Homo sapiens: one gene and its partners. The protein of the gene in region 1 purifies or fractionates together with the protein of each later gene. This does not show direct contact. Each region holds a gene or a part of one and is shown in the gene's direction. Other genes may lie near its edges.

Region 1 (7,951 bases):
GGCAGTTGAAAATGCAAGTCCAGAATTTAGGAGAGGGGATATACTTGTGAGACGAAAAAACCCTCAAATGTTAATGAAGTTTGCCTGTTGTTCTAAATAAGTAACATTTATTGATTCATTTTCTGATTGCCAAGTAGCTTACATGACTTTCTTCCAAATTCTGAAAAGTTGCCTGTAATCCAAACACCCTTGAATACTGCAGTTAACATTTTGGATGTATTTCCTTGCAGCCTTTTTTTTTTCTTCTCTCTTTCTTTCTGTGTATGTGTTTGTGTGTAAATGTGAGTTTGAGTGTGTTTTGACCAAGTTGAAATTATAACGCATTGTATATATTTTGTTTACAAGCTATCCTAGTATTTTTTTAAATGTATGAAATGTTATCAGAAAGCGTTTTCATAATGATTAGCAGTGTATTTCACGGAATGGATGAGGTTAACATATTAAACTAACTGGAGGAGGGGCTAATATAACTGTTGCCACATTGAATATATTCATACACATCTATATTTTTCTAAAAGTGGAATTACTGGGCCAAAAGTAAACTGTATAATTCTCTGAATTCTTTAAAAAAAAAAGAAAATCAGTTCACTATCCAAAAAAAGCAGGAATCAGTTCACTATCCAAAAAACGCAGGGTTCAGGCTCCTGAAAGCCTGCAAATAAAATTAAATATCTACCTGTGGTACATGGAAGACCTACTTTATGGTAGACCTACTTTATAATAGAATTTTTTTTCACTTGATGGCTGAGAAGAAATATTTCTAATTTTATTTGGTATTTCTTGCTCCTTTTTATTATCTTGGTATTTTGCAATGTAGATTTGTTCATGTTCATTGCCTATTTTTGATTTATCTTTTTTCTCTTTATATAAGATTAACTCACTGTTTAATATATGTTGAAAACATTCCCAGTTTTCTGATACTTTTTAAATTGTTTTAATATGGTAGTTTTAAAATTTTATGTAGTAAATTTATGTGTTCCCTATGTTTTCTTTTATGTTTAGAAATACCTTATACCAAGATTCAATTAAATAATTACCCTGAATTATTTATTTAGTAATTTTTAATATTTAATATATTATTACCCTAAATACAAAAATATTATTTTTGTATTTAGAACTTATTATGTGGAATGTATTTAAATATGTTATTTGAGTTGGAGAAATATTTTTTTCCAGTTGTAGTGGCAATATTTCTTTTTACTGATCCATTATTTCTCTTGTTGATCTGAGGTGCTACCTTTGTAATATATTGTTTGCTTATATATACTGGTGTTTAATTTTACTTTTTGCTTTTGTGAATGGGATTTTTTTCCCTATTATTTTTCCAGCCTGCTATTGCTGATACATAGATAAGCTAAAGATTGTCATTTTACACAGTTTTCTTTTTCGGATGATTCTCTTGGGCTTTTTGGGTAGAAAATTTTATGTTCCAAGATGATCATTTTTTCTTTCTAATAGTGTGTGGTTCTAATTGCATTGCCCTGAACTTCCAGCATGATGTTCAATGATAGTAGTGATAACAAATATCCTTGTCTTGTTCCTCATTTAATAGTGACCATCATGTTTTTTTGCTTTTCCTAGATCTCTCTACTTTAGTTAGAAGATGCCCCAATCTTGTCCATCTAGACTTAAGGTATTTTTTTATTTGTTTATTTTAGATCAAAAGTTGAAAAATCTTGATTTCTCATTAAATTGGGAAAGGATCATAATGTTGAAGCAACTAAACAGTAGGTTATTTCTGTCTTCTTTATCTAGGATCAATGTGTGATTTTCAATATCTTTTCTTCTGCCTTCTTAACAGTGATAGTGTCATGCTAAAGAATGACTGCTTTCAGGAATTTTTCCAGCTCAACTACCTCCAACACCTATCACTCAGTCGGTGCTATGATATAATACCTGAAACTTTACTGTAAGTATGTTTTGTTTTTAATGCTTAATAGAAGGCAGGAAACAACAGAGATGCCCCTTGGTGTGAAAATCCATTTTTATTAATAGACATATGAAACCGAAACATTAGTAATAAGTATACCACAGACTGGCTATGAAAGACCAGCAGAGTATTGCTTAAACTGGTGAAATTGAGTTGATCCAGATTGTTCACTAAACATTTATTGTTTAGCTGTAAGCAGTTTTAATTACTAGCTTGCTGTCTTAGTATCTATGAGAAGACTTAGCAGAGAAGCAGAAGATAACCTTTTCCTCCAGGAAACTTGAAGTGTAATTGGGAAGGCAGACCCAATGTGGGTTAGTGTCTTTTTTTTTTTTTCTTTCCAAATTTTTCGGATTAACTCCAGTTGATTCCAAAACTTTCATCTGGGCTTAAAGTTCTGTATCTTCTAGTGATGTAAGTCCTGGATAGTGAAGAAATTGGAAAGATATAAGCCTGTAGATGGTATGTATTGTAAGTCTGATACTGTTTTTGAACAGGGGCATGTTAAGGTCTAAAAAGTGAAGTGAAGTGACTTATTCAAACCTGATGGTGAGTTGGTGGCTGACCTGGATCTAAATCCTAGGTCTCCTGGACAGAGGCAAAATAGTCACTATCTAATCTAATAGTTTATACAAGGGTTAGTTTTACCTGCTCAGCAACTTCCACAGAATCAAGGGAGTGCAAGAAAGCAGCAGCCTGGTCCATCTTTCCTTTGGGAAACACCATACCCAACTCATCCTGGGAATCATATCTTGTTTGAAAAGGTTTTCTGCATTTCATTCCAAAGGGCTGGAAAAGTCTCCCTAATGGCAAATGTACATGTGTAGCAATTTTATTAAAAACCACAAGAGGTCAGTATCTTAGAGTTGATCAGGTGCCCAACATGTCTTGAATGCGGCTGCTGGACTCATTTATGTAGCTCATGAACTAAAAGTTAATTTAGCTTCCAGCTCCTAGGTAGGAAGGGTGGTGAATTTGAACAAAGAACTTTAGTCCTCAGAATCATAGTTTGAATCTTTTAAGTTAGTTTCAAGTATTAATGAATAAATCAGATACTTCAGCTACACAGAGTTAACTAGTAGAGTTAGGAAATCTGGCAGCTACGCATTTTAATTAATCATTTTTAAATTAATCTTGGGGTTCAGGGTCTGAGCTGGTATCTCATTTGGGAAAGGACTGCCTAAAATAGGATGGCAGGATTTACTTTCCCAGCTCTCAAATGTTGGGGTTTAAATTCATGCGCATGAAACTCTTATTAAAATCCCTGCCCTCTCTATTTTCTAGCATCCAGAACTCCTAGGAGCTTCTAGCGTCTACCCAAAAAGGCTTCTTTGTCATCCATTCTTTCCTGTCCTTGCCATCTGGCCTCCTGCTTCTTTGCCTGTGCAGCCCCCTGGGGAGTGTGGTGATCATTCTTTTTGGGTTGCTTTTCTCAAGAGAATCTATCCATGTGTCTTGCTTTTGTTCCTTCTCTGCAGAAAGAAAGAAGCTAAGCAGGTAATGACCCAAATGCTTTTTCTCAAGCAGAGGCGAGGGGAAGGCTGTGAGCTCTTCATTTTAATATTTTTATCCAGTGGGATAATAGTAATAGTAATTGCGATACCTGCATAATAATGGCATGGTAATACTTGGAGGCAGTGTGAATTGATAGTTACAAACACGGGTCTGAAGTCACAGACCTGTTGTGAACCTTCACTGTATTATTATTTCTTATTTGTACAAATCTTATGAAATAAGACAAACAGGGGCATTAGGAGTTTAGTTACAAGTCAGACCACTAGAATAGAGAAGAAGAAAGATCCTGTCCTTGAACATTAAGGTAAAGAGTATATTTCTTTAGGTATTGTGTAAATAGTACACTGATTTGCATTGTGAATCCTTTAGGATGAGTTTGTTGGTACCTTATGCTTAAAAGTTTCTTGAGATAAAATAAGAATTAGAATGACTCTAATTTCAATCATTTTGGCAGCTGATATATTTGAGGTTTATAATAAAAATTCCAGGATGTTTCCATAATAATTTCAAGAGAGCCATCTATGCTAAAGAACTTAAGGCTATTTATTTCTCGGAAGTGGGAAAATACAATTTGAATGTCTTTCTTCTGTAATATTTTAAAATACTTGGGAAACTATAAAGTTTTCTTCCCCAGGACCTATTCCCATTATATTTATTCCCTTACTTCTTAATTGGTCTTCTTCTCTATGTCTAAACTTCCTTCTAATTCTTCCCTATTTCTCATTCAAGTAAGAAACCCAAGCTGGAGGTAGTAAACTAATCTAAGATAAGACTAAAAGACTTCTGTGGTAGGAGCATTTGTAGTTGAGGCATTTAAGATTTTATAAGGAAAACAGGATTATTGTACAGATAAGGTAAGGAGCAATCCTGTGAAAGAGTTCATAAATATCTTTTATTTTCTAAAATTCAATATACATAAGACATTGGTGTGATTTTACATTTCTTACATTAGAAATAATGGCTCTTGAACTACTTATTTCTATTTGCTATCCCTTAGTTTGCTCTTCAGTCTCTTCCATTGTAGTTTTTAAAAGATGCTTGCAAATTTTTTATTCTGAGTTGTAGGTAATGCACATACCGGGGGCATTTTTTTTTTTTTGTCTCCTTAAAATTTTAGAGACTTTCTGGATTTTTGACTTGGAACTGGTTCTTCATCCATCATCTTATCTTATATAACCCCCTTATATATAACACCCGGGTGTGTTCTGAGAGTCTGTTCTTAATTTCTTTCCTCACCAAATCTCTTTCCCAATGCTGTTGCAAGAACATGTCCTCCTCTGCCATCTGCCATTCCTCCTTTTCTTACTCCACCTACAGTTTCTTCCCTTAAATATTCTCCAGTGCAGAATGGCTCACAATTTGGCTAATTTGGATATACCAGAACCAGAATTCTCATAGTAATTACAACGTTTCCCAAGTTTCACATGAGGGATTCAAAGTTGGAGCTGGATTGCTGTCATCGTAAGTGATTAAGTATAAGTATCTGTGTATACTGTGATCTTACTTCGACAGTGTTTCTACATTCCAGAAAGCAGTTTACTTAATGACAGCAATTTGTTCTTTCTGATTTTCTTTGGTTATATACCTTTAGATCTTATTGTCCCCTTGTGAACAAGCATATTTATTTCCCTTGGATAATGCTTTTATTTTATAAATTAGCCTTCATCTTGTACTCAGCTAACGTATATTAAACATTTGTGGGGTTTAAGACACCTTGTAGAATGTAGAATAAATACATTTAGGGGAGTAGTGGGAAGACTGGAAGAGCAGGTTAAACACGGAAGGTCTTCAGACTAGCTGAACAGCCTGGGTTCTGTAAACACAAGGGAAGCATCAAAGGTTTTGGAGCAGATGAATGACTAACATGAGCTAGGCTTTAGGAGGATGCCTTGGAAATTGGTATATAGAATAGGCTAGAAGGAAGAAAGACAGTTATAAGGAAAGTTTGGGGCTTTTTAAAAATAATTATTGACAATGTGAAAATATAAAGGATGTTTCTGACTTTAGGTAATTGATGTGCTCATTGATCTGTAGTAGGATTTTGTTGAAATTCCAAAATAAATGTTCCCTTTCCTGAGACTTTGTACTGTATGTCCCAACCTTGAGCAAACAGAGATGAGAGAGATGAATTTCTAGGCACATAGATCTGAGTTAAGAAGGAAAAAATCATTACCAACACCAAACAGTATTTACTTTGGAAAAACAGAATTTGTGAAACAGAATTTGAGAAACAGAATTTGTGAAACAGAATTTCACTGTTAACAGGGTTGAATTTCATCTAATGTGAAATACCTAAAGGGACTGGCTTATCTATGCAGAAAAAAAATGGTAATACGTAGGGAGGTAAGATGGCTATTACCTCCTATAAAGGGTGTGATTTTTCACCCATTGTCTCTACCTGTACCCAACTGTATAACCCTATCTAAAATATCTTAGGGAAGTCAGTGGTAGTTTTCATCACACATAATGGACTTGTTGACTATGAACCATTATTAAGAAGTTCATCAGTCCTGACAGCATCTCCCTTTAAGAGATGAGCCTAGTTCAAATAAAGGTCAAGTTCATATCCTTAATTTGCATGTAACCTGTGGTGGTTCCAACTGGTGCCGCAGTAAAACATTTGCTTTTACCATCACTCACTTGCTAGTTTCTTCTCATAACACAGTAACCCCATTCAGATCACTGTATAAATCACAACTGGAGAAAGGAAGCAAATATGGTTGGATTCTTAAATAAATCTGAGTTTCTAAGGTTATTAGGAACCTCATTCAATAAAATGCAGCAGTGTGTTTCCTAATGACATGTTGCTCAAGCTATATGGTCTGTGCTTTCCAGTTTAATTTGCTATTTTCTCAAATCATTTATTGTAAATTACACTTTCAGACTGCATTTTGTAGATGACACAAATTGTAAAATTTGGGTCATATAACTCTAGTCAAACAGTTTCCATAGATACTGCTATTCTGAAAGTCTTTTTCTTCCTTTCCAGTGAACTTGGAGAAATTCCCACACTAAAAACACTACAAGTTTTTGGAATCGTGCCAGATGGTACCCTTCAACTGTTAAAGGAAGCCCTTCCTCATCTACAGATTAATTGCTCCCATTTCACCACCATTGCCAGGCCAACTATTGGCAACAAAAAGAACCAGGAGATATGGGGCATCAAATGCCGACTGACACTGCAAAAGCCCAGTTGTCTATGAAGTATTTATTGCAGGATGGTGTCTCTTCTTTAGAACAGGGAAAATAGGCAGGAAGCCCAATTGCTGGAGTACTTAGCTAGTTTTATTCTTGGTTTTCCCTTTGCCTTCATTCTGCAAGTATACTAGGGAGCCATTTGAGAGGGAAAACTATGAAATCTTGCTTTTTGAAATGATTCTAAAAGCTTCTATCACTGCTTTGCTCTTAAGAGCCAAAGTTGTAGGCCTTTTGAAATTTTAGGAGAGTGAGCCTATAATTTCAAGATACCTTAAAGAGCAAAATTTGAGCCACCTCTTCCAAGTGCCCTTCTTACTAAGTCTATTCAGAATCAAGCTTAAAAATTACCACCAGCAAACAATCTTCATAGCCCATATAACTTTTATCTATTTAATTTTATAGTATTGCTTTATAAGACAGCTTAGAAGAACAATAAGCTATTTGTATTATGAGCTGAACAAAAAGAGAATCATAGGATAGTAGCGTCTGAGGCCATCTTTTCTAGGAATAGGAAAGAGAAAAATGTATTTGAATTTTGCCTTTAGATTTGAAATTAGGTTAATAGAAATAAGTAACCCCATGTAATTCACCTTAAAACTTAACAAAAGACCAAACATTACAAAACCCAGAGATATAGAATCAATATAGGATTTGAAGGCCCAGCAGACAGTTTTCTATGACAGGTTAATCTGAAGTATCCTGTAATGTTCATTAAGTTACTGTGTTTCCAGAATCTAAATTAGATGAGAAATATAATTGTGGTTTTCTAACTTGATAATCAAATTATGTTAACATGGGTCCTTTAGCTTTTAAAATGACTTGCTTTGTTTTAGAAAGGTGGTATTAATCCACTCTCTATTCTTGAAAATTTGGATGGGAGAATTCTGAAGTTGCCTGCTGTTTTCCTTTAGCGCTGAGGTTCTTAAGGTTACTTTTATATTACTCTGGAATCAAGTATTTTAAATTGTATTTTTTTTTTAAATGATCTCTCAGCAATAATTGTTTGAAACTATCCATATATAAGGTTATCAGACCTACAGTTCCCTAAGAGGAACTGCATGTTCTCTTCAATCAGAAATATACAGTAGAAGCAGGTATATCTTCCATGCAGTTTCAGTAGTAAGCACTACTTATACCTACATAAGAGTTAAAATCCAGATGTGGGACCTTTTGATACCATCAGTGATATATATTTTTTTAAACTGGTACAGAGAAGTGAAAAGATTAAATTCTACTTCTATTTTTTTTTTTTTTTTTTGAGACGGAGTCTCGCTCTGTCACCAAGGCCGGAGTGCAGTGGTGCGATCT
Region 2 (8,114 bases), on another chromosome or scaffold:
GGATACAAAGTCTCATAGAATTTATAGGCTATGAAGTTTTAATCTCCAAAATCACTTTTAGGAGATTAGTTAAAAACCACAGTCTGTCTGCCTTATACATACACGTGTCCAGGTTCACAAGAGTTTGATCCTCCTCCTCATCTTTTGCCTCTTCTTCAGGAGGCAGTGGAGACTTTGAGCTATATATGTAAGATAGAAAAGAAACACAATGTAAACAAAGCCCTCTTCTTTGAGGGGTGTGTGTGTATGACATTATGTCCATTTTAAACTGTCAGTGAATATCAAATCCCAGCAGACAGCTTTTTCCAATAAATGAGAAAGGGCAATAGGAGTTTCCATGGTAGATGCAATCTAAAACTCATGCCTATAAAAACCTATTCCATTTTGAATCCACCCTCCTTCCAGTCTCTCCAGTCAATACCAGGTATACCAAAATCAGAGCAGACACTCCCTTCAACGAAAGGGACTGTTTCCCTCACCGGCTGTGGTAAGCCTCCTCTCGGAATTCATAGTAAGCTCGGCCATGTTCATCCTTCTCATCCCGCTGTCTCTTTACCCCCCGCCGCTCACCATCTGAGCCTGCTGGTTTTGACTTTTCACTATCCTGGTCATCTCCTACAAAAACGAGGGAAAGAAAATCAGCAGTTTTCATACTGGAGTGTAGAATAAGCTCACAACTAATAGACACTAACAGGGAATCTGAGAATCTGTCTGATCAAAACAGCCAGGTTATTCCCACTACATTCACATAACATTTTATTTCTAAAGATCAGCTTTCTGTCATTGGCTGTGATTTAATTTTTTTAAAAAGGGGCATTATGGGCTAATTACAGTCAAGCACTAGATAAAAATTGGACAATTTTTGCATTCTAAATTTATCCACTTAAATCAGGTCAAACTTGCAGATTTCCCCATCAATATGACATAAAAAATATCCTCTAGGTCTCTAAGAAAACCTCAAAGGTTAATTTAATTTTGACTCTTGTCAGATCTAGATTTAAGGTAGGCAGTTAGTACATATTTTGTAACACTTTTCCACACCTTCATGATACAGAGAAGCCTCAATTTCTTTTATTTCCCTTTCCTGCACTGAAATACACAGCCATCCATGGCTTTATTCATGTGGCAAATGGACTCAAGTGCATTATACACAGCTGTATTTTTATCAGGGACTTCTACTGAAAGTTGCAAGAGCAAACCACTAAGTCACAAGAGATCCATAAATAATACCGCATCTAGACTGCACATTTGGGGCAGAAAGGTGTTGTTGTATATTTAGCAACTTCTCTGCAAGAGGAAAAAACTTGGAGTTTTTCCCTAGGCTTCTGTATTTTGCAACACTAGGAAGGTTTTTAATAATAATTTCTTTAAAGCAGTCTTTTATCCTTCAATATATATTTTTTTGAGACAGAGTCTCGTTCTGTCGCCCAGGCTGGAGTGTAGTGGCGCGATCTCAGCTCACCGCAACCTCCGCCTCCCGGGTTCAAGCCATTCTCCCGCCTCAGCCTCCCAAGAAGCTGGGATTACCGGCACCCGCCATCACGCCCGGCTAATATTTTGTATTTTTACTAGAGACAGGGGTTTCACCATGTTGACCAGGCTGGTCTCAAACTCCTGACCTCAGGTGATCCACCCGCCTGGCCTCCCAAAGTGCCAGGATTACAGGCGTGAGCCACCACCCCCAGCCTATCCTTCAATTATTTTTTTATCTGCTCTTTGGGATATACATAAGTCAAAGGTTATGTAATGGGATTTTTGCTCCGGGACACAGGACAAACAATCTGCAAGTTGCATGTGATTGTTGTACAATGGGTTCCGATTATACCATGACTCTCCATAGTGGCCTAAAAATATTACTAACAAAAGAACTGAGGCCACCCACTTTATAGTAAGACTTATCCTCCCTACTCGGACACACACTGTTATGGATCAGTTCTAACCATCCAATCACTTCAAAAGAAAGGAGAAAGGTCACTAACTCCCTGGGGCGATTCTACAACACACCTCTTCCACAAGGTTACTCAACGGACCCAACAGCACCTCAGTCATTACCATTCAGGAACCGAGGGACCTGAAACGTAAAAGACTAGCACCAGGTGTTCAGCAAATCTACAAATATGCCTATCCACGGACTCAGTGGGACAATTAAAATTTAATCATAATCCAAGCAAGATAAAAACCCTAGCCAAGTAACGTTAACTAACTCTAAATGAACTAGATTAAGATTTTTCTCTTCACTGGTTAACTATTAAACTCGACACTGTTACACTAGAGGCTCTCCCTTACAGCTCAAAGAGGAGCAAGGTTGGATTTTCAGATTCTCTGTGGCTCAAGCTCTGGTAACATGCTTTTAATGGAACGGACTTTGACGGACTTCGATTTTTGCTTAACATTTTTACGGCGAAAAAGTTAGGTCAGGTAGCCCAAAGACCTGACCCTCTAACTGTGGGCCTAGTTCTCCGTGTAATCCCCAATTGCTTAGCACTTTCTCAGCTAAGAAAAATATAACAAGCACCGTGGGAGACTGTTCCACAGGTAGCTCACAAGTAGTTCGCATGCAAAATCACTCACTGCCATCCACTATCACCAAGGAACCAAGTTAGGCAGGAACCTTCCTCCTGCAAAGAGTAGGGCCACGAGAGGCGGCCTAACCCCTCAGAAAGGTGGGTAGAGAATGAAAGGAGTTCCATCAAATGGCACTTTGAGGCAAGCGAGAACAAGGACTCGGACCCTGCGGTGCAGGGCGGGGTGCTAGATCAGGGGCGCAGCCGGCAGGTTGGAGCCGGGCTCGGCTGCCAGCTCCTCACCCTGTTCCTCGGCGGCCTTGTCACCCGGCACCTCGGATCCCGGCGTCTCGTCCCCGCTCCGCTCCTCGGGTTCGTCTTCCTCCCTCTTGCCGAGGCCCTGCTCTTCGCCACCATTTACCCCGCCTGACCCGGCCGTGGCCTCCGCCGGCTTCTCGGAAGCATCTGGCTCGGCCGCGGCCTCCATGGCTGCCGCCTCCGGGGGCTCCGGCGGCGGCTGCGCGGCCTGACCCAAGGCTTGAGCAGGGGGTGGCTCCTCGTCCTCGTCCTCAAGCAGCGCCTCCTCGTCCTCCTCCTCCTCCTCTTCGTCCTCCTCCTCGTCCCCGCCCGGGCCGCCGCCCGACGCGGCCACAGGCCGAGGCTCCGCCTTGCAGGCCCCGCCGGGCCCGGCCCCGCCGCCGCCGGCCTCGTCCTCGAGCATCTCGGCGTCCAGCGCCTCCTGCAGCCGCTGCGCCAGATCCACCTTGAGGCCGCGCGAGTCCAGGCCCCGCCGCTGCAGCTCCGACCGCAGCTCGGTCACTTTCAGCCGCTTCACCTCCATCGCCGCCGCCGCCTCCTCCGCCTCCCGCCGCCTCCTCCCCTGCGAACCGTCGACCGAGTCCGACCGCGCAGGCGCCGCCGCCGCCGCCCGCCTCCGCCTCACGCGCCAGCACTGAGCCCGCGCGAGCGAGCGCACGCACGCAGGAGCGGAGGCCGCGCACGGTCCCGCTGCGCAGTGTTTGCTTCTCCTTCGTCTCCCCTCCCCCTTTCGGCTCACGGAGCCCAAAACAACGCAGCAGGGAGCTGTTTCCCCTCCAGGCCCTTGGTTCCCCAGCCGCGGGCAGGCGCGCGCGGAGGACGACGGAGTTCCTCCCGCTTCCTCCCGCCCTCTGGCGCCCCCGGGCCAATCGCCGCCGGTGCTTTTATCGCGCAGCCGCAGTGGAGTCCAAGACGGGCAAGGCTGGCTGCAGCTCAAGTGCCTCGTAGCACGGAAGCGTGTGCGCGCCGGTCTTTCAGTACTTCCAGCCGGGGAGTTCTGCGCAGCCGCCCGGAGCTCCCCGATGCCATGCCCCTCCCACCACCCTTACTTCCGTCTGACTTCCATTTGCTGTGGCGTTTTAGGGGTCGCTAGCCTCTTTTCCCTACTGTCTGTGCTTGCAGCAGTAACGACAAAAAAAAAGTCATTAGAGAATGTGTTGCAACATGTAAGCCTAGTAGCAATTGTTTTTCTGGCTAGGAAGCAAAAGGGCTCCCCAGAACGAAGAAATACTGTAATCCGGGCCCTCCTTTTTCCTCAACGCCTCAACTTCTACCCAGCAACAGAGGCCCTTGAACCCGCCCTTTTTCTCTTATTGGACAACTTGAATCGTCATTTGCCGTTCCGATTGGTCATCCGTGATCGTCCGGATTTTTCCAATTGGCGAAGCTGCCAGGGGAATTTTTTTTTTTTTTTTTTCCCAGGTTGGTCCGCTGAGGAGGCGGGGTCGTTTCTGCGGGATTATTTTTCCGGAGCCTCTTCTGATTGGGTGGTGTGGCGCAATGCGCGCGACCCTCAAGATACCAAACTGTACGCATCTCTGACCCTTTCCTCTCCTTGCTCCTGCTGGTAAACCGAAGCCCAGGAGACTTCCAGGTTTGGGCATCTGCAGAGGGCGAGGAACTGGTCACGGCGCCGGGTGGGCTTGCAGCTGTGACGCTTATGTGGACACCTCAGTGTCGCTGGTGGTTCACCTCGGCTTCCCAGTTTATTTATTGACGTCAACAAATAAATGTTGAATAAGGAAGAAGAGTTAGAATTGCTTGAAGCCCTCTGGAGTTTTAGCACTAGTCCCGCCCACTCCCTTCTACTTCCAGGTCGGGGGGGGGCGGGTCCAATAGAAAGGCGGAAGCCAGTGTCCCAGGCGTTCTCACGCCCGCAACAATTCCTGAGTAGGGCCTTGCTTGAGTTCTTCGGAAAGTCTCATCCACCCCCACATCGCCTCTTTAGGAAGTCACTTAATGTTGGGCTTCATTATTCCCACATCCCTTTCCTTACTACTTGCCTGCACTTCTTGAGAAAAAGACTGCAGAAAGGAGAGGTGGGGCTTTCAGTAGAAACAAGCAAACCGCAGGTCCCTGTGGGGGGACTCTCCAGGAAGAAGGGTAATTTCCTGCCTCCTTAAATTGGCTGCTACTGTCAGTTATTTTGCTCCCAACCCCAGAGCTTCACTTGCTCCTTCACTTCCCAGTTCCGCAAGAACCGTGGGCGACAGTTATGGAGAAGCGTCTGCAGGAGGCTCAGCTGTACAAGGAGGAAGGGAACCAGCGCTACCGGGAAGGGAAGTACCGAGATGCTGTGAGTAGGTACCATCGAGCTCTGCTTCAGCTGCGGGGTCTGGATCCGAGTCTGCCCTCTCCGTTACCTAATCTCGGACCTCAGGGCCCGGCCCTCACGCCTGAACAAGAAAACATATTGCATACCACCCAGACAGACTGCTATAACAATCTAGCTGGTAAGAACGGGGCTAAAGGGTGGCTAGAGAGCATTAAGACAGGAACATGAACATCTGTGAACATTGGGGGAAAAAACGCTGACTTTTTTTTTTTTTTACTGTCATCCATTTATTCTGCCATGAATTGGAATAACCTGTCAATCTGTGCGGCTGTAATTAAGTTGCCATAGAGCAGGGCTTCTCAGACTTCACCTGGAGAGTCTGTTAAAACACAACCTCCTCGGCCCCATCCCCAGAGATTCGGATGGGTCTGACGTGGGGCCTATCAGTTTGCATTTCTTTATTTTTTTATTTTATTTTATTTTATTTTATTTTATTTTATTTTTTTTTGAGATGGAGTCTCGCTCTGTCTCCCAGGCTGGAGTGCACTGGCGCGGTCTGGGCTCACTGCAGCCTCCCCGTCCCGGGTTCAAGCAATTCTCCTGTCTTAGCCTGCCCAGTAGCCGGGATTACAGGCGCCCGCCAGCCACCACGCCCAGCTAATTTTTTTTTTTTTTTTTTTTTTTGAGACGGAGTTTCGCTCTTGTTGCCCAGGTTGGAGTGCAGTGGCGTGATTTCGGCTCACCGCAACCTCTGCCTCCCGAGTTCAAGCGATTCTCCTGCCTCAGCTTCCTGAGTAGCTGGGATTACAGGCATGCGCCACCATGCCCAGCTAATTTTTGTATTTTTAGTAGAGACGGGGTTTCATAATATTGGTCAGGCTGGTCTTGAACTACTGACCTCAGGTAATCCACGCGCCTCTACCTTCCAAGGTGCTGGGATTACATGCGTGAGCCACCGCACCCAGCCCCAGTTTGCATTTCTAACAGCCTTCTGGGTATTGTTGATAGCTTTAGGTAATTTTGCATGCTATAGGGAAAAACTATACTTAAGGTCAGGCCATTGTTTATTTAAGGGACATTTAATATTTGTGAAACACGTTCATTTCTTTAGCTGCTAGTTTAGATCCCTTATATTCAGTGGGTCGTATAGCTTTTCCTCATTTTTCTTTTCCTTTTTCTTTTTTTGAGAAGAGCTTCGCTCTTGTTGCCCAAGCTGGGGTGCAATGGCACGATCTCGGCTCACTGCAACCTCCTCCTCCCGGGTTCAGGCGATTCTCCTGCCTGAGCCTCTGGAATAGCTGGGATACAGGCGCGTGCCACCACGCCTGGCTAATTTTTTGTATTTTTAGTAGAAACGGGGTTTCACCATGTTAGCCAGGCTAGTCTGGATTCCTGACCTCAGGTGATTCGCCCGCCTCGGCCTCGCAAAGTGCTGGGATTACAGGCATGAGCCACTGCACCCGGCCCAGTAATTTTTATTTATTGAGTGCCTATAACATGTTGGGCAGTCATTTACAGATATCTGCCATCTTCACAAAACTGCAAGGATTATCACCATTTTACAGATAAGGAAATCAGATCCTGTCACTGCCTGAAACACCCCATTGGCATCTCATCACACTTAGAAGAAAATCCAAACTCACCTCGAGGCCCCAGCACCAACTAGCTCTTTTATTTTTTTTGAGACTGAATTTTGCTCTTGTTGCCCAGGCTGGAGTGCAATGGCACGATCTTGGCTCACTGCAACCTCCGCCTCCCGGGTTCAAGCAATTCTCCTTCCTCAGCCTCCCAAGTAGCTGGGATTAGAGGCATGTGGCACCATGCCCTGCTAATTTTGTATTTTTAGTAGAGATGGGATTTCTTCATGTTGGTCAGACTGGTCTCAAACTCCCAGCCTCAGGTGATCCGCCCACCTCGGCCTCCCAAAGTGCTGGGATTACAGGCTTGAGCCACCACGCCTGGCCTTATTTTTTATTTTATTTATTTATTTTTTTTTTTGAGACGGTGTCTCACTCTGTTGCTCAGGCTGGAGTGCAGTGGCGTGATCTCAGCTCACTGCAACCTTTGCCTTCCAGGTTCAAGCGATTCTCCTGCCTCAGCCTTCCAAGTAGCTGGGATCACAGGCACCTGCCACCATGCCTGGCTAATTTTGGTATTTTTAGTAGAGACGGGGTTTTGCCATGTTGGCCAGGCTGGTCTCGAGCTCCTGACCTCAGGTGAGCCACCCACCTCGGCCTCCCAAAGTGCTGGGATTATGGGTGTGAGCCACCATGCCCTTCCCAAACTGGCCCTTTTATACACTTAATGTCCAAAGTACATTTCCACCTTCACACTTTTGTAGGCTGTCTTTCCAGCTAGAATGCCCTGTCCCTTGAATGACACTTATCCAGATTTGGACTCAAAAGTTGCTTCCTTAGAGAAGCCTTCTGTAGCTGGTGCAGTGGCTCACAACTGTAATCCCAACACCTTGGTAGGCCGAGGAGTTCAAGACCAGCCTGGGAAATGTGGCGCAACCCGGTCTCTACAAAAAATACAAAAATTAGCCAGGCATGGTTGTGCTTGCCGGTAGTCCCAGCTATTCTGGAAACTGAGGTGGGCCAATGTCTTGAGCATGGGAGGCCGGGGCTGCAGTGAGCCAAGATTGGGCCACTGCCCTCCAGCCTGGGTGACAGAGCAAGTAAGACTCTGTCCCCCGATTCCTCCCACCAAAAAGCCTTCCAGAAGCAAACAGCACTCTGACTTCATTCATTCTCTGTCCCGACATAGTTTTATTTTTCTTAAAGCACTTTTTTTTTTTTTGAGACAGAGTCTTGCTCTGTCGCCCAGGCTGGAGTGCAGTGGCGTGATCTCACCGCAAGCTCTGCCTCCCAGGTTCATGCCGTTCTGCCCCAACCTCCCGAATAGCTGGGACTACAGGCGCCCACCACCACGCCCAGCTAATTTTTTTTTTGTATTTTTAGTAGAGACGGGGTCTCACCTTGTTAGCCAGGATGGTCTCCATCTCCTGACCTAGTGAT
Region 3 (7,951 bases), on another chromosome or scaffold:
TTTCTGTTGTAACTTTGTTTTTTCATTGGTAAGCAAGATAAATCTGAGTATAAGCAAGAATGGCTATAGATTTAACGTTTCCAGCTAGATGAATTAGACTTTGATTATCTACTTTAGCTTCTTTAGTAAAATACATCTGACCCAGGCAGATAATATTTATAGCATTTTAAATACCACTTGGTGCTCAGGACCTTGTTCTCTCTTCCCTAGCATCAGGTCACATTTCCTTTCCAGTGCCTCTGTCTCCTGTTTCCTAGGGGTGTGGCCTGTTGCCTTCCTGAGGCCAGCAGCCATCCTGTTTTTGTACTGGCACCACATGTACATGTAGAAGTTGACGTGTGCTTGCTGAGTGAGCTTGTTGTACCAACTCAGTTTTGAAAACCTGGGACCGCACAGCTATGTGATGTCACAGTGGTGGCTTTCTATCAGCAGGATTTGTGATTGCAAGGAAATTGTAGTTACTCGTTAACAGTGTAGAAGTGATTCTGACTTACATGAGGCAAGCGATGGGGCCTTTAGATTTATGGAAATGTATCTGTGTGTTAAATACACCTGAAACTGATTTTCAGGAGTAGACTCCTTGATCTTTTCATTCTTTTTAGTTCATTCAAATGCTCCCAGTAAATATCTGACAGTTGCTTGCTTTGGGTTAATACTAACCTTAGTAATAGTAGTAGAAACAATTCTTGCTTTGATTAGTGAAAACTATTAGTAATCAATAGACCCTAAGCGTTTGAATATAATTGAGTTTAAAACTATCCACCTGTAACACTAGGAAATAAATTTCTGAAAAAAATTAAATTGTAAACCAAGTTGTGAGGGATATACTTGGAAAGCCTGATTTCAGACTCTCCATGTTTATATTTAAAAGCTGCATTGTATTTGTCATTTCCTGTTCAGATTCAAAGATCATATAGCTTCATAATTTTTTGGATAGTCATTTTTATCCTCATTTTTGGGGAAAAACATGTTATTTCAAAGGTTTTCGTGTTTCGTTTTTATTCAATTTAACATTTGATCACCTATGGCAGACCTTTGCTATTGATAATAAATACTTCCTTAAATCTTTGCAGATTCCCTGATTTGCACATTTCATATAATGTATGGAACTTTGGCAGTGATTAGAACATTCTCTAAAACAGGGCCCTGATTGCCTTGTTGCTCTTTAGCGCATTTGGTGGTTTCCAGCATTGCTGTCAGCCTCCATTGAATTTGACTTGCCACACAGATTTATCAAAAATGTGTTTATTTTTTAGTGAAAAACTAGAATTTTTTTTAAAACAAAACCTCTTAAATATATAGTCTCCTCTCTTACAAGCACTAGCAGTTGGCTTTGGGGTAGAGAACAATAAATTAACTGAAAATTGGAAATTGCATTCATATTTGTGTGTAAAAATCACAGATGCATATGTGGACTTTCAGGATCACTCACTGACAACTCATTAGATCTGAGATAACCCATTAAATCACTACACTAATCTGAAAATGCAGCCAATTTATATTATATAAATGTCGGTTTTGTTTTTTCTTTCTTTGAGACAGAGTCTCGCTCTGTCGCCAGGGTGGAGTGCAGTGGCGCGATCTCAGCTCACTGCAACCTCCACCTCCTGGGTTCAAGCGAGTGTCCTGCCTCAGCCTCCTGAGTAGCTGGGATTACAGGTGCACGCCACCACACCCAGCTAATTTTTGTACTTTTAGTAGAGACGGGGTTTCACCATGTTGTTCAGTCTGATCTCGAACTCCTGACCTCATGATCTACGTGCCTTGGCCTCCCAAAGTGCTGGGATTACAGGCATGAGCCATGGCGCCTGGCCTATATAAATGTTTTGTACAGTATTTATCTCCTCAAATTATAATTTTGGGCAAAGAAAGCGGGTTTCAAGTTTAAGAACTTTAAAAAGTTTTATTAACTTTTTCATATTTTGTTATGGAAATTTAAAGAATATACAAAGTAAGTAGACTAGTGTAATAAACCACAACACCAATTTTAATAGTTGCCAGCATTCTCCTATTTTTGCGTCATTTGTACCTTCACCCATTGCCACACTCAATTTTCCAAATTGTGCCATTTTACTTTCCCACCAGCAGTGGATTGCAATGCAATTTTTGGCATTGTCCTTTTTTTTTTTTTTTTTTTTTAAGACTTGTCAAGTGCAGTAGGAAAGCAAAGTAAACCCAAAGCAAGCAAATAAAAGCAGAAACCAATGAAACCAAAAACAGATAAGCAATAGAGAAAATCAGTGAAACAAAATGCTGGTAGACATGAGAAAGTCATTGAAGAGAGGCTGAACCACCATGCTCTCCTTCATGATGAGCTGTTCAAAGAAGAATCTCATCTGTTCTCCCTTAACCTTTCTCCCTCTGCTGCCTCCCCCAAACCTAAATGTTTCCACCTCCCAGTAGACTGACATCCTCACAACTGTGTTCAGTGGAGTCTACAGTTTTCATCTCACTCCATCTCTACAATGGTGAGGCTTTTAGCTACATTTTCCTTCTTGAAATGAGCCTCCCTTGACTTTGTCATAGCACACTTTCCCAATTTTTAAAAAAAATCCTCTTTAAAAATTCTCAGTATTTGTCACCATTTCACTGTCACTCCTTTGTTGACCCTTTTGGAAGTCATCCTTGCTCCTTTCCCTCCTTCCCTTCTCTGCAATAGCTGACCCATTGCTGATGCCTTTCAATCCTCATCATAGATATTTCTTGAATTTGTCCACATTTTACTATTTCTACCTAGAACAGAATGATGATTTTGTGCCTGGACCACTGTTATAGCCTCCTAAATAGCCTCCTTGCTTTTTCTCATCTCCATTCCAACCATCTCAATTTAACTGACAGAACAGTCTTTTAAAGAATAAACTGATGTAACACTCCTGCTTAAAGCTTTTCAATGGCTCCTGATTCAGCTGTGAAAGAAATCCCTACTGTGTGGCACCAGGACCTGTGTGACCTGCAAGGCGCCTGTTTTCCTCAACAAAGCCTCTTTTACACCACTTGCTCCCCACACCACCCTGGCCCCTTCCACTTACTCAAAAACACTGAGCTCCTTTTCACTGTGGGGCCATTGAATATGCTGTTTTCCCTCCCTAGAACCTTTTCCTCTCATTCTTCACCTGCCCAACTCATATTTATCCATGCAGCCTCAGTTTTAATGGCATTTCCTCCCAGGCCTTCCAAGACCACTCTCCCTCAGGCAGCTTTCCTGACATCTTTAGCCTGCCCGCTCATGCTCTCTACCTTTTTTCTGTATCAAAATGCCTTTGTTTGCAAGTAAAAGAAGGCCTGACTTAACCTGCCTTTAAACAGTAAGGACACAAGTATGCCTATGTTATTAGAGGTCTGCAGGTAAGGCACGTAAAGGGTCATCTTTTTCCAGTGTCTTCAACTCCATTTCTCTGAGGTTCCATCAGCTACATTCTGTGCCATGACTTTATCCTCAGTGCATTTTTCGGATGGTAATCAAATGGCTGTAACATGTTCACCTCTAGCTCAGCATGATACTCAGAGGAAGAATAGAGTTGCTTCTAGGAGTTTTGTGATGAGAATGAGGGAATTTCTTTCCCTGGAGCCTCCAGCAAGCTTGTCATTAAGTACCTCCTCAGGTTTCTGGCTCGAGTTGCATCTCATGCACACCTCTCAATCTATCCCTGTGGCAGAGAATGTCTCTTATTGAAAAAATGGCCTGGGTCTGCCTGTCTCTGAACTAACACTGCATCAGGAGAATGGGATTGCCTTGATCACCCAAGATCAGTGATTCTCAAAGTGTGGTTTATGGAGCAGCATGACCTGGGCACTTGTTAGAAATGGAGTTTTTCTGGCCCCACCCCAGACCTACTGAATAAGAATCTCTGTGCTCTGTGCATGGAGTGGGGCCCACTCATCTGTGGTTTAACAAGCCTTCCAGGTGATTCTGGCACATGTTAAAGTTTGAGGACCCCTGGCCAAGACTAGTAAGGATCTAGTTCTGGAGCTGAAGTCAGTCCCATCAAATATAATATATGGTGGAGGGTAGGGTGTGACAAGGGGTATTTCGGGGAGACAACCACAGTGACCACTGCACCTTTATAGCACTCCTCACAATTTGTAATTATGCATTTGTTTGTGTCATTATTTGTGTAATATCTGTCTCCCCCAACAACACTCTAAACTCTACAATGACAGGGACTCAGTCTAGCTTGTCAGAGTAGCCTCAATACCGGCTATAGAACCTGCTTTATATATGCTGAGCGTTCAATAAGTTCTTGATGAAAAAGTAATAGAAGATATTTCTTGTGCCTCTCAGTTCTGTCATCAGTTGGTTCCGTTCCATTTGTTTCTCTCACAGTCGGGGGTGATATGTGTGTGCACGCCTACCTCAGCGGGCAGCCCTTGGAGGAATCACAGCTGAGCATGCTGGCCTGCTTCCTCGTCTACCACTCTGTGCCAGCTCCACAGCACCTGCCACCTATAGGACTAGAAGGTAATTGCATATCTAAGTCTTATCTTCAGTAACTCTGTTACCTACCCCTTTATGTTCTAGTTTCTCAGTAGTTACTGCCCCTAGTTTGACTTTCCTCTTCATTAATGTTGCAGTGTCATTGTTAGGGACTGTTTTGGAGCAAAAAAGAAAAAATTATCAACTTTATATATGAATAACTTTCATTTTTATTCAGAAAAGGATGGATTCTTCTTCACAGAGCCCCAAACACTGATCTATACTAATAAACTAAATATTCCATATTATTCTTTACTAATTGATTTTTTTATTAAAGCTATTTTTCTTTATTTTCTAGGTTTTCAGTTGGGTTTTTTAGAATCACATATAATCTTAATTTCTAATATTACAAAGCTTTACAACTAATAAATACCTAATTTTGTGTTTGAATTTTTTTATAATAGTTTTAAAAATTAATAGTATTATCACCTGATTGTATTTTTCAGAATATAGAAACAGATAAAAAAAATTTATCCATTAAGCTGAATACTAAGATATGATGAATTCTAAGCACCCAATTTTTTTGAGATTCTCAAAAAAAATATTTTTTGATAAGGGCAAAGATTGTTCCATTTAATCATTTAAACTTGAAGTTTAATTACATTACTAGTTTTTTGCTGTTTTGCAAGCCTCTGATAAAAGTTTACTATCTAGAGACTTCTGGTTATGGCCATGATGGAATTGCTTGTATTGGACTCACTTGCCCTCAAAAACAAATATAAAAGCTAAAAAAAAAAAATAAGAAAAGGGAAGTACAACAGGGAGAGCTTTATATTCACCCTAGCTTCTCCCCCAAAGGCATTTGCCAGTTCATAGTACAAGAAGTAGAGTGCCAGCAAAAAGCAGCAATGCTGCAGGGCTGAGGAGCCAGAGGTTGGGTTTGTGATTGCCCAAGAGCCTAGAACTTGAGGAACACAGTCTCAGGCAGGAGAGAACAATAGAAATCATAACTCAGACTCTGGATATACCTTTCCCTTGAGTTACTTAATGATATTTTAGCCTTCATATACATGGGATAAGACTTCAAGAGATCTAGCAGAAGCCACAAGGCCAAAAATGTAAGCAAAAATGTCAGCAGCAGCATAGGACTGAGGAGACAAAGGGTGGAATTCAACGCTTGTTAAAGTGAAGTGGCTCTGATCAGCATCCCAGCTCCTCAGGTGAATTAATACATGGCCAAGCCCTAAGCCTGCTCTAGCCTAATTTTAGATCTGGTCTGCTTCAGTTTCACTCCAAGCAGACTTGACCTACAATTAGCCTAGAGCAGAACTAAGGTGATCTGTGTGCTTTCTCCCCACCTGACAGAAGAAAATGTAACCTTCATAGGAGAAAGAAAACATACCCAGAGCCCCCGCAATTTTTAGTCTACAGGATTCAGTGTTGAATCAAAAATTACGAAACATAATAATAATAAAAAAACAGATAATAGAAACAGACTTATGTGTGATTCAGATATTGGAGTTATCATACTGGAACTTAAAATAACTATGTCTAATGTTTCCAGGAAAATAGAAGGAATGATAGGGAATTTCACCAGAAACCTGGGGTCAATAAAAAAGAGTTAAATGGAAATTCTAGAACTGAAAAATATAGTAACTGAAATGAAGATCTCAGTACTGGATTATTTGAAGTGAACTGGAAGACACTTATCTGCTGGAAGACAAGTAGAAAGTAAACAAACTGAAGCACAGAGGGAAGAATGGTTAGGAAATACAGAGAAGAGTACAAGAGACATGTGGAAACCGTGAAAAAAAAATAAACATGCATGGGGTTGGAATAAGAGAATAAGAGGAGAGAAAAAATGAGTTAGAAGCAATATTTGAAGAGACAGAAGCTAAGAATTTTGAAAAATTGTGTTAAATATTAACCCACAGTGAACCCTAAGCAGGATAAATACAAAGAAAACCATACCTAGTCACATTAATAGTCAAACTACTAAAAGGAAAAGGAAGACATTTTAAAAGTATAGACTTCTTTTCAGGCCAGGCTGGACAAACAGGGTTGTTCAATGGTCAACTGTATTAGAACCAGTAAAATACCACTTAGATAGTATTTGAAGGTAGACAGGCACTTTTGCACATTATATTTAAAGAATTTATATATATATATATATATATATATATAAAATTAAACAATATTAGTAGTTTCACATGTAGTTATAGGTCACTTTCTGAAGTCTAGAATGGGTAAATTCTATCAAATCATATACAGGTTTGAGTATCCTTAATCTGAAATCTGAAGTGTTTGAAATCGAAAACGTTTTGAGCACCAACATGATGCTCAGAGGAAATGTTCATTACAGCATTTTGGATTTGGGATTTTTGGATTAAGAATGCTCAGCCGAGGCTGGGCGCAGTGGCTCACGCCTGTAATCCCAGCACTTTGGGAGGCCGAGGCGGGCGGATCACGAGGTCAGGAGATCGAGACCATCCTGGCTAACACGTTGAAACCCCATCTCTACTAAAAATACAAAAAAAATTAGCTGGGCGTGGTGGTGGGCACCTGTAGTCCCAGCTACTCGGGGGGCTGAGGCAGGAGAATGGGTGAACCCAGGAGGTGGAGTTTGCAGTGAGCCGAGAGAGCGCCACTGCACTCCAGCCCCGGTGGCAAAGTGAGACTTCGTCTCCAAAAAAAAAAAAAAAAAAAGAAAGCCAGTAGGTGTAATGCAGATATTCCAAAATCTAAAAAAATCCAGAATCCAAAACACCTCTCTTCAGAAGCATTTTGGAAAAGGGATACTCAATTTACATTACAGTGTATTAAGGAATTTCATAATTTTAAATATTGTCTTTGCATAGTCATTTTCAAAGGGAAAAATGCCTGTTTTAAACATGATTGTGTTTCTGAAGCTTCCTTGAAAGGAGAGGTATGGCTGAATTTATTTAGAGATGTGACCTTCCCACCCCATTTCCATTTTAGGGAGCACAAGCTTTGCTGAACTGCTCTTCAAATTTAAGCAGCTAAAAATGCCAGTGCGAGCTTTGCTGAGATTGGCTCCTTTGCTTCTTGGAAATCCACAGCCAATGGTGATGTGACCGTGTCTGGCGGTGAACCTACCCTGAAACGTGACTTCTGCACAACAAACGTGACCAAACATCAAAGCTAAAGCAATGTTTATAAAGTTTTATGGTATAACTAGGGGGAAATGAGCTGCACAAACCTCAATGTATTTTAAATCTGTTGCTGTCATCATTAACGGTATATGACATATAAAAGCAAGTTAAAATTTACTTTTGTAAATAAAGTTTTTGGTTTGTTTCCAAAACTCTTGATGATTGCTTTAGTTTTGGACTTAGAGAATAGAGCAGGGGTTGCTGGAGTGAATATTGATTTTTAAAGTCTTTGAACTGTGGTGGTATAGGTGAAGTGACTATGCCCAAAAATGCCAAGTTTTAAAAGAAGCTATGTCATAAAGTTTTACTTTCTGTGGCAAAAGAGCGCTTTAGCATTTCCTCAGATGTCACAGTTGTCCTGTCT
Region 4 (7,044 bases), on another chromosome or scaffold:
TGAAGAATTGAAACAAATTGTTCCCAAAGAATCCCTCGTTTACTTCTTAATAGGAAAGGTAAAGACTGGGGTCATGGTCCCAAACAGTGACTTTCATAGCAAATAATGACATTTTATAAGAATAAATGTAATACTTCCTGTACATATCTATTGAGCAAATTAAACTAAAGCTCCGAACTGAGTGCTCTGGGAATAACAGATTTAGTTCTAACACTTAAGAAAATGATATCCTAGCCAGGCATGGTGCCTCACGCCTGTAATCCCAGCACTTTGGGAGGCCTAGGCAGGTAGATTACGTGAGGTCAGGAGTTTAAGACCAGCCTGACCAACATGGTGAAACCTGACCTCTACTAAAAATACAAAAAATTAGCTGGGCATGGTGACACATGCCTGTAATCCCAGCTACTCCAGAGGCTGAGGCACGAGAATCACTTGAACCTGGGAGGCAGAGGTTGCCATGAGCCAAGATCACCCCACTGCACTCCAGCCTGGGCAAGAGAACAAGATTCTGTCTCAGAAAGAAAAAAAAAAAAAAAAAAAAGTAGAAAAAAAAGTAGAAGAACATGAATGGCACTGTGTTGTCTTGATTAAGAGAAATGGCTTCTGAGAGTCCCAAGGCCAGACTAGTCAGTTTTTTACAGACTAGACCTCCATATGCCAATTAGTTAAGGTGACTGTGGACAGTTGTAAAGAGTTGATATAACTCAATTTAAAATCACTGTAAATGAAAGTTAATTAAGCAGTTTATAATCCATTTAATCCCATTATCATTGCTCCAGTCAGAGTGATATTTATTGGAAACTTACTACCTGAAAGATAGAAGCAAGGAATTCTGAAAATAATGTCTGATTATATTAAAAGGAACTCAAAAGCTGGTATGAGTTCATCTGTAGGAAGAAAATGTCCTACCCTTAGAATGAGTTTAGAGCACATAAATCAGGAGCCTAATTTAAATTATAAATATTTAGAATTGTAGAGGCTGGGCGCGGTGGCTCACACCTGTAATCCCAGCACTTTGGGAGGCAGGTGGATCATCTGAGTCAGGAGTTTGAGAGTAGCCTAGCTAACATGGCAAAACCCTGTCTCTACTAAAAATACAAAAATTAGCCAGGGGTGGTGGTGGGCACCTGTAGTCCGAGCTACTCAGGAGACTGAAGCAGGAGAATCGCTTGAACCTGGGAGGTGGAGGTTGCAGTGAGCCAAGATCGTGCCATTGCACTCTAGCCTGGGTAATAGAGTGAGACTCCATCTCAAAAATAAATAAATAAGTATATATATAGTTAGAATTTTATAGTTGAAGCTCACAACTTAATGAAAAATGTAGTGCTGCTGTTTATTTTTAGGTTTACAAGAAGTTAGGTCAAACGCACCTCGCCCTGATGAATTTCTCTTGGGCTATGGATTTAGATCCTAAAGGAGCCAATAACCAGATTAAAGAGGCAATTGATAAGCGTTATCTTCCAGATGATGAGGAGCCAATAACCCAAGAAGAACAGATCAGTAAGTATCATACATATGATTTTGAGTATTTAGAAAGTTACCTTTTGCATAAGGATTTGTAGGCTACTCTTTTATTTTATTTTTCTAACCATGGTGTTTTCATTATACCAAATGGACTTTTAGGGAAATTGAACAGGGTGATGTAATAACAAAATGCATATAAAGTCAGATAATGAGTCTCTGTTCTGGATCTAGTTTGCTGTGTGACTTTGACAAATTCATTGCTAAGTTTTACCTGGACCTCAATTTATGTTTGAATATGTAACCAGTACTGTTTTATCTGCTTCATAAAAATGTAGTTTTTTAAATAACAGAATGGAGAAATTTCTGACAAGATAAATTCTGATTAGATGCCTTTGTTCCAGAAAACTTGGTGAAAGGCTTTAATTAAAATTATAAGCCATGGGGCCAGTCGCAGTGGCTCAGGCCTGTAATTCCAACACTTTGGGAGGTGGAGGTGGGTGGATCACCTGAGGTCAGGAGATGACACCAGCTGACCAACATGGTGAAACCTCGTCTCTACTAAAAATACAAAAATTAGCTGGGCGTGGTTGCGGGCGCCTGTAATCCTAGCTACTCGGGAGGCTGAGACAGGAGAATTGCTTGAACCCAGGAGGCTGAAGTTGCAGTGAGCCGAAATCACGCCATTGCACTCCAACCTGGATGACAAGAATGAAACTCTGTCTCAAAAAAAAAAAAAAAGTATATATATGCCAGGCATGATGGCTTGCGTATGTAATCGCAGCTACTCAGGAGGCTGAGGTGGGAGGATTGCTTGAGCCTAGGATTTCACGACTAGCCAGTGAGACCCTGTCTCTAAACAAATTTTTAAAAGTAGCTGGCTGTGGTGGTACGTGTCTATAGTCCCAGCTACTTGGGAGGCTGAGGCAGGAGAATCATACCACTTGAGCCCAGGAGTTTGAGGCTGCAGTGAGCTATGATTGTGCCACTGCACTCCAGCCTAGGTGACAGAGCAAGATAGATGATTGATTGATTGATTGACTGATAGACTGACCCCATAAACCTTTTGAAACTGAAGGTTATAGTCTGTGTTTCTGTGGACTAGCAGGGAGTATTCTTAAAGTGGAGTCAGTGATTGGAGGTTGGGGGAAATGTCAATTTTTTTTTTTTAATGTCTCAGAGAACTAGCTAGTTGTAATTCCTAGGGCAGGAATAAGGAACTCATTAGGAAGAGGCAGTTTTGGTAGTTAAAACTTAAAGGTAAAATGCAGTAAGCTAATATCAGACCTATTATAAAGTTAGGAAACTTGAGTTGCATTTTATTAAAGGATATGAGGATTTTTAAGGGCCTTTATTTAGGGTTTTATCTCTCTGAATATAATACAATTTTTCTTACTTGTTTTCATGAACCAACAGGACATATTTGTCAGAAAACTTACTGTGGACTTCTGTTTTATTTTTAAAGTGGGAACAGATGAATCCCAGGAGAGCAGCATGACAGATGCGGATGACACACAACTTCATGCAGCTGAAAGTGATGAATTTTAACTTCTGGAAATCAGACTTTTACAACTGGATGTGTGACTAGTGCTGACGTGTTTCTTGTCCCTCTGTATACTGAGTCTTTACTCTTGAGCTGGCGGTGTCATCGTCCGTCACTTATACCATGAGTGTGCCACTTTCATTGGACCCTGACTGTATACAGAATGAAAGGCAGTGCAATATTTAGCTGCTAACAAGACTGGCTCTTTTACCAGTATGAATGACAATTTATGGGGGGTAGGGTGGGGAACTTTCTTTTCTGTTTTTCTTTAATCTCCCTTTGTTGGAAAGTATCATGAAAGGAAGAGTTATGCTTTATCTTGAAGGAACCATTAGATATGGAAAATAGTGATGAACCAGAGTTTCTTGGTTGCTTTTTCAAAAATTTGTTTTTATTTGGTTCTGTTCCTGATAAACAGAGTAACTGACCTTCATTTCTAGGTTCTTCAAGAATGGTGTTTGCAAGTGCCAGATGGAACAATAAAAGACGTTGCCTATAACAGTGACTTGATTGCCAAGGAATGTAAATTACCTTAAACTTGCAGTATCTCCCATAAACAAATGTAATGGGCATATTGGGACTCGTATGTAGGAATCAAATATCCCTCCATACAGTGTACTCTTATTCTTGGCAAGAATGCTTTAATGTCTAACCAAGAATTTTAATTTATTCATCTTGCTTCAAAGTGTTGATCATTGTTGTCTTGGTATTGCAAACTTTAAAATTGTTTCTTACCATATTGCCTCTTCTCTTTGAGCTCTGTGGGATCACCTTTAACATTCAGAGATGATAGAGTGGTTCCCCACTGAGAAGCCAAAACAAGGCCCTTAATAACCCCTTAAGTTCACCATATGAATCAGAAGGAGAACACTAAAGTGGAGAGACTTTTAAGAGATCATGATAGTGAAAGCCTTAATATAATCAGAATTGTACCATAACCTTGAATCTATATTTGTTCAAAACATCCCTTTGACTTTTCTAAGTGTTTGCTTAAGCAGAGTGTAAGAATGTGTGGTTACCTTTGGTTGAGATCCTTTCCATTCTTTTTGACTCTCTGCTTCAGATTTTTTCAGTAGTGTGAGTCACCAAAACATTTACTAAGAGTAATTGGGTTTAGGATGTTGGAAATTTTTAGCTTGGGGGAAAAAACATTCTTATGAAGGAGATAGGTTCTCTTCTGAGTTTGTCATAATATAGATTGGTGTCTTTGGAAAATGGCCACAATTTTAAGAATTCAATTATGCATATAAAATGATAATTATTGGAATTCCACAGTAACAGATTTAAACAGTCTTAAATTGTTTATCTCCTTTACTGTAATGTATTGAAATTTTTAGAGAAATTTTAGTTGTTAACATTTTATTAAGTGCCAGTGTCAGAATATAACAAATTATAGTTTCTTATGAATGACAGGCCTACAGTTATTATTCTGGATTATTTGATGGAGGACAAACTTACCTGTATTTGTTAGTCAAGCTGTGAAAATAAGGTGGATTACAAAAGATGTGAAAAAAATTTTAGTCTGTAGACTCAGTAATTTTCTATAATTTACTGTTAATCTCATTTGAACATGGATTAGGTACAATTTATAAATTAATTCAAGTCAGGGTCTTTAGGTATCAGGTGCCAGAGAGATATTTAACAGATTTCCCTACCTAAATTTATGTATATGTACTGTCTAAAACAATACTTTTTTAAAAAAAAGGAACAGTTGGGAGAAAATAAATATAATGAAAAATTCCCAGAGGCTAGCACTTGGATTCTAACACGTATGCTATTGTATTATCCATTAGTTCTGTAATATTTAATTTTAGATTCTTTTATTTTTTTAATTGGCAAAGCACAAGGTGCTGTATAACAGTGTCATTTAGAGTTTTATAGAAAGCTTCAACCTGAGTTCTGCGTTATAAAGCCTGGAGAAAGCTAAGCTTAGAACATAACTTGCTGAAGTATAATTATCTTTTTGTAGCAGGAATTTATGTGCCAGAGGTGAGAGTCTTTCTGGTACTGATTTTTTGAGACCAAGGATAAAAGGATCGTTTTGTAAGACATGCCATGGCAATGGCTGGTTGGGGGACAGTTTCCGCCCAAGCTTGGCCTATTTTATTTTTCCTCATACCTACTTTCAAAGTCATTTAGGTATTTGAAGCCTTATTTCCCACGTAGTAACACTTTCTGGCTTTTGCAGTTTCTTTTTTTGTTTGGTTTTGTTTTTTGCATGGAATGGGGATCAAACAACCCGAAGAAGAACACATTTTGATCAAGCAAAATGTTTGCTTCAAATTTCAGAAGTTTATTTTACAGAAATTAAATTAAGTAGTTTGACATCCTTTTCTCTGTTTCACACATATATTAGGTTGGTGCATAAGTAATTGTGGTTTTTGCCATGACTTTTATGGCAAAACCTGCAATTACTTTTGCACCAACTTAATACATCTATATACATATATATATACGCGCACACACTTGTTCAGAAGTTATGTTGTGGCCTTGGATTTGTTTTTCCCCTTGGAAATGGTTCTTAACTCTGGGATTTTAGAAGGTTAGAATATTTTTTCAAGAGAACAGTGGTACTCAAAAGAATGAAAGGTGGTCCCTACATTTTCTGTATTCATCACTTAAAATTTTTAATTTTTCCGAGAACTACAAGTAACATTTGAACCATGCTGCTGTTGTACCTTAAACAAAAACTCAGTGATAACCAGTATTTAGTCTATTAAAAATGCTCTTTTTGAAGAAAAAAGTTTGGAAGTCTCTGATTAGCCAGAGTATAGTATGAGTCTTCACTGAGAAATATGGTGACCCATTTTCTTTGTGAAAACCTGGGAAAATGCAAGTGTGGGTATGAAGTGTGTGTTCTGTTTGCATTGAAACAATGTAATTTTGTGTCTTCTTTTTGCTTTAACTGACTTATTTCAGAAATTGTACAGTGTTGAGGGGGAAAGTCTTTTCTGTTAATATATTTGCAATTCATTAAAGGATATGGAAAATCCAAATAAGTTACTTTTGAAAGCAATTTATAATCAAGTTGTTAAAGCTATATGAAAGCTGTGCCATCTGTATTTTAATAAGAAGGCACAGAAAAACAGAGATACAGTTTTATGTTTCACAAAAAACTAGAGCAATGTTTATCTAATTTTTTAAAACTTACACTCTTAATATATTTATATTTTTAAACGGTCATACTCTTTTTTAGTATTATTTGGAATATCAAAATAAATACTATGACAAAAACAATGGTAATTTTTAGAATACCTTTTTTCAAACTACAGAAGCCCCTTACCAACCAGCAGCTGCGAATTTGCAAGTCAACTGCTTATTCTTTGATCACGTGATTTCTGAAATTTCTTCAAAAGGGACACAAAGGTTTTTTTGTTCCAATTAGAATCTATTTAAAAAGGTCAGGATCTGAAAGAAGTAAGATGTAGAAACTAAATTTTACTCTAATTTGAAATTTTTTTTTTTTTGGTATCTTGGAGAAAGTACAAAGAGCTGAAGGGTTTTATTCAGACTTGAAGAAAAGGCAGTAACAGGGAAAAACATGTGAAGGTGGGGTGAGCTGGGCAGTTCCAAGGGGAACAATGCAGACCTCATAACCTTCCCTAGGACCTGCCATTTAATGTCAGCTGAACAAGGATAAACAGCAGCTTAGACATGGAGCTATTCTTTGGCTTGTTTAGCTGACAACTTATGGTTCATGAAGGTTCAGTATAGGTTTTATTTTTCTTTGTAAGTGCAAACTTTGTTTAAAAGCTATGTTTGCTGAGATCCTGGTCTATGGATTGTGTTACTTGCTTTGTGGATGGTATTTTCAATTCTCATCACTAGAAGGTAGGTATTACTTCATTTTACAAAACAGAAAACAGGCTCAGCTATTAAATGATAAAACTGGGCACTTTTGGCATTAGTGTATGTTCAGAATCTTATATTTTAGTTTTGGACTTCCTCTGGAGGTTTCAAGTCATATTTAATGGTAACTGTAAGTTGTCTTCTCTAGCATTTTTTTAAAGACAGTCTCGCTCTGCCCCGCATCCTGGAGT

The links.
Region 2: the proteins of SKP2 (region 1) and TTC9C purify together in Homo sapiens (co-immunoprecipitation; 3 studies listed by BioGRID and IntAct, with this or other methods). This does not show direct contact.
Region 3: the proteins of SKP2 (region 1) and ANAPC1 purify together in Homo sapiens (affinity purification with mass spectrometry; 3 studies listed by BioGRID and IntAct, with this or other methods). This does not show direct contact.
Region 4: the proteins of SKP2 (region 1) and CDC27 purify together in Homo sapiens (affinity purification with western blotting; 2 studies listed by BioGRID, with this or other methods). This does not show direct contact.

Annotation. Positions count from the first base shown.
Region 1 is NC_000005.10:36,175,384-36,183,334, forward strand, and holds part of SKP2 (S-phase kinase-associated protein 2), read left to right. Parts: intron 1-1,581; coding exon 1,582-1,633; intron 1,634-1,801; coding exon 1,802-1,909; intron 1,910-3,214; exon of another isoform or gene 3,215-3,427; intron 3,428-6,434; coding exon 6,435-6,648; 3' UTR 6,649-7,951. UniProt on the Homo sapiens protein: Substrate recognition component of a SCF (SKP1-CUL1-F-box protein) E3 ubiquitin-protein ligase complex which mediates the ubiquitination and subsequent proteasomal degradation of target proteins involved in cell cycle progression, signal transduction and transcription.
Region 2 is NC_000011.10:62,723,812-62,731,925, forward strand, and holds the start of TTC9C (tetratricopeptide repeat protein 9C), read left to right. Parts: upstream 1-4,674; 5' UTR 4,675-5,011; coding exon of another isoform or gene 5,012-5,037; coding exon 5,038-5,275; intron 5,276-8,114. Other genes in the region: HNRNPUL2 (heterogeneous nuclear ribonucleoprotein U-like protein 2), read right to left, coding at 103-179, 480-615, 2,808-3,345.
Region 3 is NC_000002.12:111,768,849-111,776,799, reverse strand, and holds part of ANAPC1 (anaphase-promoting complex subunit 1), read left to right. Parts: intron 1-4,324; coding exon 4,325-4,459; intron 4,460-5,665; exon of another isoform or gene 5,666-5,739; intron 5,740-7,393; coding exon 7,394-7,509; 3' UTR 7,510-7,951. UniProt on the Homo sapiens protein: Component of the anaphase promoting complex/cyclosome (APC/C), a cell cycle-regulated E3 ubiquitin ligase that controls progression through mitosis and the G1 phase of the cell cycle.
Region 4 is NC_000017.11:47,116,900-47,123,943, reverse strand, and holds the end of CDC27 (cell division cycle protein 27 homolog), read left to right. Parts: coding exon 1-58; intron 59-1,324; coding exon of another isoform or gene 1,325-1,343; coding exon 1,344-1,500; intron 1,501-2,926; coding exon 2,927-3,009; 3' UTR 3,010-6,241; downstream 6,242-7,044. UniProt on the Homo sapiens protein: Component of the anaphase promoting complex/cyclosome (APC/C), a cell cycle-regulated E3 ubiquitin ligase that controls progression through mitosis and the G1 phase of the cell cycle.